Linked DNA regions of Homo sapiens. The protein of the gene in region 1 purifies or fractionates together with the protein of each later gene. This does not show direct contact. Each region holds a gene or a part of one and is shown in the gene's direction. Other genes may lie near its edges.

Region 1 (3,500 bases):
ATTAAGTCTATTCTAAGGAGTTAATTTACTGAATTATTTCCTGTAATGCAACAGAGTTAATTAAATTAATAAGTCTTCACCTTCATAGTTTTTAGGATTAGGCACCCACAAAACCACTAGACAAAATAAACTCATTAGCTGACTGTACCCAGATATACACATGAATATAGTTAGAACTTTAAAGGAAACTTTATTTCAGTTTAAGCCAAAAGGGAAGCTCTTTAAACAAGTTTTTAATATAGTTCATCTGCATATAAGGTTTCATAACTTTGTAATGATCAAAAATAAGATAATTAAAATATGCCATCTTACTGAATATTGAGTACTAGCTCATATAAATCTGGATTCCTATTTAAACAAGGAATCATTGATCACAAGATAAGCTTTCAGCTTCAGTGACATCAGAAATTACTACAAAATCAGGAGGAGAATAAAGAAGGTTGACAATTAAGAACTAGAAAGTCAGCCAGGTGCCATGGCTCAAGCCTGTCATCCCAGCACTTTGGGAGGCCAAGGCAGACAGATCCCTTGAGCCTAGAAATTCTAGACCAGCCTGAACAACACGGCGAAACCCTATCTCTATAAAAAATACAAAATTAGCAGGACATGATAGCACAAGCCTCTAGGCCCAGCTACTTAGGAGGCTGAGATGGGAGGATCGCTTGATCCCAGGGAGGTGAAGGCTGCAGTGAGCCGTGATCACACCACTGAACTCTAGCTTGGATGACACAGTGAGACCCTGTATCAAAACAAAAACAAGAAAACAAAACAAAACTAGAAAGTCAGCGTAAAGGAAACAATCAGAATGCGTCTCATAAAATACTGTGCTGCTGTGAGTGTTGTCACATTTTACACAATGGAAATGGATTCCCGAATCTCCATAGCCTGATAGGTCTGGTCAGAGACTGTGCACACCAGCCGGGATGGGAGTCTGTATGAAGTGATGACAACTAGCTCTTTTCAGCTTGGTTTCAATCTGGGTATCCTCATGAAAACAGGCTATTAGTTTTCTGCCTGAAGCCCAGGAGTTCTGAAGACTCCCTTCCTGTACTCCCTTTTGGTCTCAGTTTCCTTATCTGCAAAATGGGTATAATGAAGAGAGCTTAGTTTACATGGTTGTTAAACCATTAAATGACATAATTTGTATAAAGCACTTAGCAAAGTGCTCAGTAAATGTTAGCTAACAGGTAAATATGGTTATATAGATACCTATGTAAAACATATAAGCTTAAGTATGTATCTTTTGATAGGAGGAGAAGGTGAACATAATAACCTACCGTCCATATAAATCCCCAAGTTGCTTCTTGGAATATATGTCTGTACACAGACACACACATAAAGCACTTCTGTATCCTTGAAGCATAGTTTAAAAACCATTGATTGAAGGACCCGATAACAGTTCTTTTTTTCCCTCATTATACATAATACATTTTTAATATTTCTATTTTAGTCAAAAACTGAAATGTCTTTCTATTTGGAAAGAAGCCAAAGAAATAATGTAATTGAGGCCAGGTTTAAGACCAGAGGGAAGGATAGAGACTGCAGCAAACTGGAAGGGGTGTGTCCCAGTCAAACGGGCTCAGCCACTGCACAGCTCCAACTAACTTTGGTCCTGTGGGAAGGTAGTCTGTGTTGCCACTGGACTTTTTGTGAATCCTCTTAATTTTTAAACATTGGCAACTAATTCCAGACATTTTTTAGACTTTGTATGGGATCGACAAAATGTATCCACAGGCTAGAGATAGCTCCTAGACCACTGGTTTTCTTGTAGATGAAAGAATGAATGTCTATTTATTTCAGGTCTGCCTTTCCTGAAAATCCAGAACCTTGTGCTCTCTGATGAAATTACTTAAAATCATCTTTGCATGCTAAAAATGTTTGGCATATAAAGCAATGGGGGCTTTTTGTGTCATTTAACAGCTCTAGTGACATTTTATTCTTTGTCTTCACATGAAGATTTATGAGAAAGAATAAAACGGAAGCACCTTTAGTCAATTCCTTTTCCAATGCTCTGTGACAGGCCCTTTCATCGGCTTGTTCATTAACACCTGTGGGTGCCGCCAGACTGCGATCATTGGAGGGCTCGTCAACTCCCTGGGCTGGGTGTTGAGTGCCTATGCTGCAAACGTGCATTATCTCTTCATTACTTTTGGAGTCGCAGCTGGTAAGCATGTGGCTTTTTTTAAACTCGATTTTAAATGTTTTATAAGACATCTTGGCAGTGGATTTAATTGTGGAGAAAAGAGACACATTAAAACATTCTGTTCTGTTTCCTCCCCCCCACTTCACCCCAACCCCTCCCTACACTCCTGGAAATACATTTTAACATTACATTTTAATATGCCTTAAGTGGGGGGAGCCCACCTAACAGCAAAACTTGGCCTGCCTAAGAGAATCAAATTATATTTCCATATGCCTGGTTCTAAATGCCAATGCTATCTCCAGTGAGGAATAGGAAAAGGAAGGCAGTAACGTTGACTTAGGTGAATGGACCAAAGATTAAGGAAATTACATCAGTGTGGTGTGGGAAATAAGCTAAATAATAGGCCAGGGGCAGTAGCTCACGCCTGTAATCCCAACACTTTGGAAGGCCAAGGTGGGCAGATCACTTGAGGCCAGGAGTTCGAGACCAGCCTGGCCAACATGGTGAAACCCCGTCTCTACTGAAAATACAAAAAAAAAAAAAAATTAGCCAAGTGCGGTGGCACCTGCCTGTAATCCCAGCTCCTCAGCAGGCTAAGATATGAGAATAGTTTTAACCCAGGAGGCAGAGGTTGCTGTGAGCCAAGATTGCACCACTGCACTCCAGTCTGGTTGACAGAGTAAGACTCTGTCTCAATAATAATAATAATAATAATAATAATAATAATAAAGCCTCCTGTGTGAAAATAGAAAAGAAAAAACATAAATACATAAGTAAATATTTTAAAAAAGATTAAGGAAACCAATAACGTTCATTTACTCTTTAATAATCATTTGTTTTTTTTTTTTTTTTTTTTTTGAGATGGAGTTTCACTCTTGTTGCCCAGGCTGGAGTATAATGGCACAATCTTGGCTCACTGCAACCTCCGCCTCCTGGGTTCAAGCAATTCTCCCACCTCAGTCTCCCAAGTAGCTGGGATTACAGGCATGCACCACCATGCCCAGCTAATTTTGTATTTTTAGTAGAGACAGGGTTTCTCCATGTTGGTCAGGCTGGTCTCGAACTCCCAACCTCAGGTGATCCACCTGCCTTAGCCTCCCAAAGTGCTGGGATTACAGGTGTCAGCCACAGCACCCGGCCTTATAATAATTTACTCTTTTAGCCCTGTTCAAATTCATAAAATAGCATAAACCACACATATATGTAGAGACGAAGAAGCAAATCTAGAGTACAGTTAGGTTGTCATTCCCAGTGAACAGGTTAATATTGGCTGCCAGCCACCACAATCTGCATATCCATTATGCAAAATATATTCCCAGCCACAATTTCCTTTATCAGCAGGTAGTGTGATTCACAC
Region 2 (3,500 bases), on another chromosome or scaffold:
TCTCACTGTCATTCTCTGAAAGGTCATAAATGGCCAACTAATTAACCAATCCAATGGCTTTTTTCCAGACTTTGTTCCTCTCCACTTCTCTGAAGTATTGAATACGCTTGATACCACTTTCTTGAAATTAAGTCCCTCCTTAGTTTTTGCCCATTGCATATTTTGGCTTGTCTTCTATTGCCCTGATTAGCCTTCACTCTCCTCTCTGGTATTTGCTTCTTCCATGGCTTTCTTCCTTAGTTGAACTCTTAATTTTTTCCAATAAAGTATACAGTTATTCAGTATTTCTAAGTATCTCCAGAGCATAACAGTGATTTTAGTGTTTTTTGTTTGTTTGTTTGTTTTTTAATTGAGTCAGGGTCTTGCTCTGTCACCCATGCTGGAGAGCAGTGGCGTGATCTCGGCTCAGTGCAGCTTCAACCTCCCCGGCTCAAGTGATCCTCCCACCTCAGCCTCTCCAAGTAGCTGGAAATATAGACGTATGCCACCACACCCAGCTAAATTTTGTTTCAAGTTTTGTAGAGATGGAATCTCCCTAAGTTGCCCAGGCTGGTGTCGAACTCCTGGGCTCAAGTGTTCCTCCTGCCTTGGCTTCCCAAAGTGCTGGGATTACAGGCGTGAGTCGCCACAACCGGCCAGAAACTATTGTTCTATTTATTTTGTGCAGAGCTTTGGTTGTTCAGGCAGGAGGGTAAATCTGGTCCCTGTTACTCCATCTTGGCCAGGAGTAGGAGTTGGGGAAGTGCTTTGGGAGTATAGAGTCCCCCCTTTACCCTTGGAGTATACATTCTAAGATCCTAGTAAATGCCTGAAACTTCAGATAGTACTGAACCTTGTATATATTCTATGTTATTTCCTATACATCTATTCCTCTGCTAAAGTTTAATTTATCAGTTAGGCACAGTAAGAGATTAACAGCAATAACTAATAAAATAGAAAAATTATAACAATACACAATAATAACAGTTATGTACTGTGGCTGGAATTTTTTCACTTGAGGTGCGACAGCAAAACTAGCATGAATTTCTTTCTCCTCCTGTACAATTTCATGGATACAAGTTTTGTTCTTAACATAGATCTTAGCAACCTCATCATATGAGCTTTTTTTTCTTTAATTTTTTTTTTTCTTTTGAGTTGGATTCTCACTTTGTCACCCAGGCTGGAGTACGGTGGTGTGCTCTCAGCTCTCTGCAACCTCTGTCTCCCAGGCTCAAGCGATTTTCCTGTCTCAGCCATTCAAGTAGCTGGCATTACAAGTGTGTGCCACCATACCTGGCTAATTTTCATATATTTATTTATTTATTTATTTTGAGACGGTGTTTCACTGTTGTTGCCCAAGCTGGAGTGCAATGGCGTGATCTCGGCTCACCTCAACCTCCGCCTCCCGGGTTCAAGTGATTCTCCTGCCTCAGCCTCCTGAGTAGCTGGGATTACAGGCATGTGCCACCACGCTCGGCTAATTTTGTATTTTTTTGTAGAGATGGGATTTCTCCATGTTGGTCAGGCTGATCTCAAACTCCCGATCTTGGGTGATCCGCCCACCTCGGCCTCCCAAAGTGCTGGGATTATAGGCATGAGCCACTGTGCCTGGCCTATTTATTTTTTGAGATGGAGTCTCGCTCTGTCGCCCTGGCTAGAGTGCAGTGGTGTAATCTTGGCTCACTACAACCTCCGCCTCCCGGGTTTAAGCAATTCTCCTGCCTCAGCCTCCTGAGTAGTCAGGACTACAGGTGCTTACAACCATGCCTGGCTAATTTTTTGTATTTTTAGTAGAGACGGGGTTTCGCCATGTTGGCCACGCTGGTCTTGAACTCCTGGGCTCAAGTGATCCGCCTGCTGGGCCTCCCAAAGTGCTGGGATTACAGGCATGAGCCACCACGCCCAGCCCTTTATTAAGTTGAGAACTTTCACTTTTTCACTTAAAGGAAGCACTTTATGGCTTCTCTTTGACATATCTGAATTGCCAGCATCGTTACTACTGTGCTTTAGGGCCATTATTAAGTAAAGTATAGATTCCTTGAACACACGCACTGAGATACCACAGCAGTCGTAACCCAGATGGATACTAAGTGACTGGAGTGTGACACCTACAGTGTGGACATCGTCCCATGTGGGATGGAACAGGACAGGAAGAGAGTTCCTCACACTATCCAGAGCTGTGCATAATTGAAAACTTAGGAACTGTTTACTTCTGGAATTTTCCATTTAATATTTTCAGACTGCAGTTGACTGTGGGTAACTGAAACCTCAGAAAGCAAAACCGTAGATGGGGTTACCACTGTAGAGTTACTGTGTTACCTTGATCCAAAACCTTTACCTGAATGATTCCTTTAACCATTCCCGGTAGGCTTTCTCTGTTAAAGCTGCTGTACCAAATCCAGGGGTCAGTTTGCTGCCCTCTGATCGCCTGACCTCTTAGCGGCATTCAACATATTTGTCTGCTCTCTCCTTTCTTCACTTGGCTTCTGAAATTCCAACCTCTCTTGGTTTTCTTCCTGCCTCATAGCACTCACTAGAATTATCTCTTGCTGGTTCCTCCTCTTCTTTCTGATCCCCGAATGTTGGCTTGCCCAGGACTCAGTCTTTTGTCCTCATAATAAATCTTCTGGTGATCTTACCCAGATCATCTCTTTTAAACCCCGTCTACATTCTGATCGTTCTCAAATGTAGTCCCACTGCTCTCCTTAGCTTCATCCTGCATATTTATAATCTCTACTTGGACATCAGTGGACACTTCAGATTTACTATATCCAAACAAAACTCTTGATCTTTCAGAACTTGCAGTCTTCTTCAGTCTTTTCCCTTCTCCCAGTTGCCCTGGCCACAAACATAGAAATCGTCCCAAATCTTCACTTGTCCTTACCGACATCCAAATTTTCAGCAATTTCTATAGTGTATTTCTGTATTAGAGTAGCAAGAGATGTTATAAGAAATAAACCCCTATATCTCAGTATATGCCATAAATGAAATTAATTTTTGCTCACATGAAAGTGAAAAGCTATATTCCCACTTAGTGGGTGGCCTTCCAGGTGGTCATTTAGGGGCCCAGGTGCCTGCATAGTTTGGCTGCCCTCCTCCAGGGCTCAGTGTCCTGGGAATTCCCTGGTTGGGAGAGGGCAGCTGGGAGGTTTTCATGGGCCAGACTTGGATGTGGTGCATATCCCTTCTATCCGTTGGGTTGGCTAGAACTTAACTATTACGTGGCCATACTTCACAGAGAGGCTGAGACATACAGTCATCATTTGTCCAGAAGGAAGAAGAAATATGCCTAGTGACCTATTAGCTGGTCATTTTGCCAGATGTAGTAGGGTCTACCTACAGATTTTAAAAGTCTGACCATTTGTCATCACCTTTGCTGCTGTCTTTAGCTCATGTCACCTTCATCTCTGAAGTGGATGACTACAGATCTTCCTAACCTCCTGATAATCTTCCATTCTAATCTCTACATAGTAGCCATAGTAATGTCTTTTAGAATGTAAACCAGATTCTATCACGCCCCT
Region 3 (3,500 bases), on another chromosome or scaffold:
TTTCAGGCTTTGGACTATAATGTAAAATTTTATGAATAGCTGCTATTCAGAAAAATCATTTTGTATTTCTATGTCCCATATTCCTCTTTTTACCTGTTTGTTCACTGAAGTACTGTTATATAACTTCAAGTAAAATTTACTTTTCTGTCTCTTTTTTATCTTTTCTAGTGGACAGTTTCATAAAGCATAACATGAGTAGAAGAATCTACTGCCAATAACTGTTTATTATCTGCAATCAAGTGGGCTTCATCAATTTAATTTCTTCTCTTTGAGTAAATGAAGATTCAGACTTTGTAATATTATTGCCCTTAAGTGCAATGCTAAAAAAACGTTGATTTTCAAGCTTAGAGAATGGCTAGACTTTTCATTAAATACTGATTTTCCTACATTTGCTCTTCTGCAGTTAGTGGGTGATTTGCTATTTTTCTTAGTAGTTAAAAAATGGAACTAAATAGTGAATATACATACACTGCATGTAAACATTCTGCATATACCTCTAAGATTAAAATTCGCAGTTGTCTTTTCATCCTTTATAAAATGATCTAACTACTTATATTTGTGCTGCATCGCGTTACATCTGTTTTTATTTCACTATGAAGATGTTTGATTAAACTTATGGACTTAGTGCCTTTAAACTGATCATCAGGGAGAATCTTGAAAAAATCATTTGAAGGGCTGATGTGAAGGAGCACTGTAAATTTTTATAACTTAGTAATGAGTATTCTTAGGCAGATGTAAAATTTTTTCCAATTTATTTTTATTTATGTAGCTTATAAAATTAACATACCCTGTTTTACTTTATGATAAAGGATTTTTTGTTTGCTGAATTTAAAATTATATATTAGTGATACCATCAGAGGGCAGTGATGTTCTATTGTATATTAAATTCAGCTCTGTAAGGATCTTTGTAGTAATTGAATGAGTTAAACTAATAATCTGGATGGGTTATAATGAGTAGTAATATATTTGTCCATATTTCATAAGTAGTGTTAATCTTGTGTACTTATTAGAGAACGATCATAAGATTTATACAGATGTGAAACTGCGAAGGCAAGTATGAATGTATGAAAAAAACATGTAGGTACTGTACTTACAAAAGGTCTACTTCAGATATAAAAATATTAGGTAATTCTATACAATGCATAGTCATAAACCTTAACATTTTTGTTCATTAGAAACATGAATTTTATAGCATTTTTTGTTTCTCCTATATAATACACTGAAATAAAAGAATTTGTGTTAGCTATTAAGGCTGATAGCTCTTTTAAATGGCAAGGCCACATGTTGAGCCCTAAATTAAAATTTGCAGATATTAAGTGCTAATAGAAATTTTAAGTTAAATCGACCAAGTTCACTTGCTTTACACAAAGGAAACTGAGCCACTATCTTCATCTACCCCTCCAACAAAAATTATGTTATACTGCAGTGTATTGTACATGTTAATTTTTAAAAGTTTGAACTATTATATAATACAGGTCTCTTGACTTCTCATGGAAAAATTATTTTTTCTATTATGGTGTGAAATATTGTGTGAATATCTAGGCAAAACATAACAATTTGGCTCAATTTTCTTCTTTAGAGGATTCGTGCTGTTTTTGTTCATAAAGGGTAGTGAAATCATTGAACTATATTTTAGAATGAAAATTTTTGATTTTATTAAAATGATTTTTTCAAGGCAGAAAGTAAAAGGAATGATTGATAGCGGAGTGCATATAGAGCTAGAGCATATCATCCTTGAACTCTGCAAATCCTTTCTTCCATTTTAATATAGCAAGAACAATTTTGTCTTTACTACATCTTAAAGAATTAGAACTTGGGTTGGTGTAAGTGACTTACTTCCAGGGAATCATGCCCTATTTCTACCAGCAGGTCATACCCAAATGTCACACTATCTATTGTTAACCATGAATGATATTCAGATCTATTACTTTTCGTGAAAAGTGGAACATGTTACTTCCAACCATGGCCTGTCACCGTGAGTGTGATCAGCTTTCTCCAAAACCACATGGGTCGCAGGAGCTAAGGGGTGGTACCCAAATGTTAGGAACAGTGTTAGGAAAGGGCAAGGGAAAAGAAGTGACTGGATGTCTTATGAGAAACCGGTAAATGACTAAAAAAAAAAGCAAATGACTAAAAACATGACTAAAAAATTATATATATATATAATATATATATTATATATGTGTGTATATATATACACATAATATCTGCAAATTCTAATTTATATATGTGTGTGTATATACACACACACACATGCACATACACACATACGTCCAGACATCTCCCTCATAAAATAACCATCAGTTTCTATGAAAACCTTAAGTGGAAGCCAATTTCCCATAGTAAATAATTTAGGAGAAAATTATAATGCTTAAAATGTTGCTCAAACCCCTGACCTATTACTAAACTATAATTGGAACAGTAAAATGCATATATGTAACTATCATATCATGATTTAAAATTGCTTAAACCATTGCTGCTTAATACTAATCAAACTTAACGGCTGCTAACAAAAGTTGTGAATTATTACACGGCCTCTTTGTAACGTGCTGCATGTTTTTTAAAACATCTCTGTGTTTCTGTTTGTTCCACTGCTGGTATTTGGAATGTAATTTAACAGTTCTCACACATGGTTTGGTTATAAATTCTGTATTGCCTTTTAGGGATATAAATATACATTTTTTTCTATGTAAAAATTAGCTTTAGCTGTCTCTTTAACAAAATTTTATCTTTACTACATCCTAAATACTTAGAACCTGAGTTGGTGGTTAGGGAAACCTCAGGAACATTTTAATCACATTGGGATTCAGAAGAGCAACAGAACCAAAGGTTGTTTGGTGTGTTCATACAATCCCTGGATTTATAGGTGGATTTTCTATAAAGGAAAAATGATGTAATTAGTATCCTGTTTTTTCCTAAAGAAATAATACTATCATAAAAATTCTGTCTATCCTTTGTACCCCAGGAAAATGGACATGAACTTTGAATTTTCCCTTTCTCCAAATGTTTGACTTTTTATTTTCACTGATAAGCATTATGCTATGTTCTTAGAAGACAAAAGCAGCTCTTGCCAGTTTTGAATAATTTCTGCATGAATAGACCAGTAAGAGGTAAGTAGCCATGACTGCCTATATGTGTTGAGACATAAGGTATATTTCTTTAACATCTCCAAGCAAGCATTTCAAATTCTCTTAACTACTAAACATGCTCTAAGCTAATTCAAATATAGTATTGTGGCTTTTTTCTTCAATTTTCTCAAAAGCTACAGACACAAGGCATTTGTATGTATAACAGACTTTGATGAAGTTTTGGTTCCAGTAACTCAAAACACTAAGTTTCCCATTTGATATGGCTTTTTATTGTTCTAGTCTCCCTCTTCTAGTTATGCTTCATCTTGCAAATATTGACTTTGAATGTGATAACTATTGCCTACAAATTAAGTATTCATACATTACTCCTGTGGATATCATACTTTTTTGTTATTATATCCTGAATTGCAT

What was found. The genes of interacting proteins can lie anywhere in the genome.
Region 2: the proteins of SLC16A14 (region 1) and CLCC1 purify together in Homo sapiens (affinity purification with mass spectrometry; one large-scale study listed by BioGRID and IntAct). This does not show direct contact.
Region 3: the proteins of SLC16A14 (region 1) and SVIP purify together in Homo sapiens (affinity purification with mass spectrometry; one large-scale study listed by BioGRID and IntAct). This does not show direct contact.

Annotation. Positions count from the first base shown.
Region 1 is NC_000002.12:230,048,425-230,051,924, reverse strand, and holds part of SLC16A14 (monocarboxylate transporter 14), read left to right. Parts: intron 1-170; exon of another isoform or gene 171-1,076; intron 1,077-2,020; coding exon 2,021-2,164; intron 2,165-3,500. UniProt on the Homo sapiens protein: Proton-linked monocarboxylate transporter. May catalyze the transport of monocarboxylates across the plasma membrane.
Region 2 is NC_000001.11:108,956,985-108,960,484, reverse strand, and holds part of CLCC1 (chloride channel CLIC-like protein 1 isoform 1 precursor), read left to right. Parts: intron 1-3,500. UniProt on the Homo sapiens protein: Anion-selective channel with Ca(2+)-dependent and voltage-independent gating. Permeable to small monovalent anions with selectivity for bromide > chloride > nitrate > fluoride.
Region 3 is NC_000011.10:22,819,802-22,823,301, reverse strand, and holds part of SVIP (small VCP/p97-interacting protein), read left to right. Parts: intron 1-168; coding exon 169-183; coding exon of another isoform or gene 184-190; 3' UTR 191-2,965; coding exon of another isoform or gene 2,966-2,986; 3' UTR 2,987-3,500. UniProt on the Homo sapiens protein: Negative regulator of the ER-associated degradation pathway (ERAD) of misfolded proteins. It competes with AMFR/gp78 for binding VCP/p97, and inhibits AMFR/gp78-VCP/p97 complex formation that is required for degradation of ERAD substrates.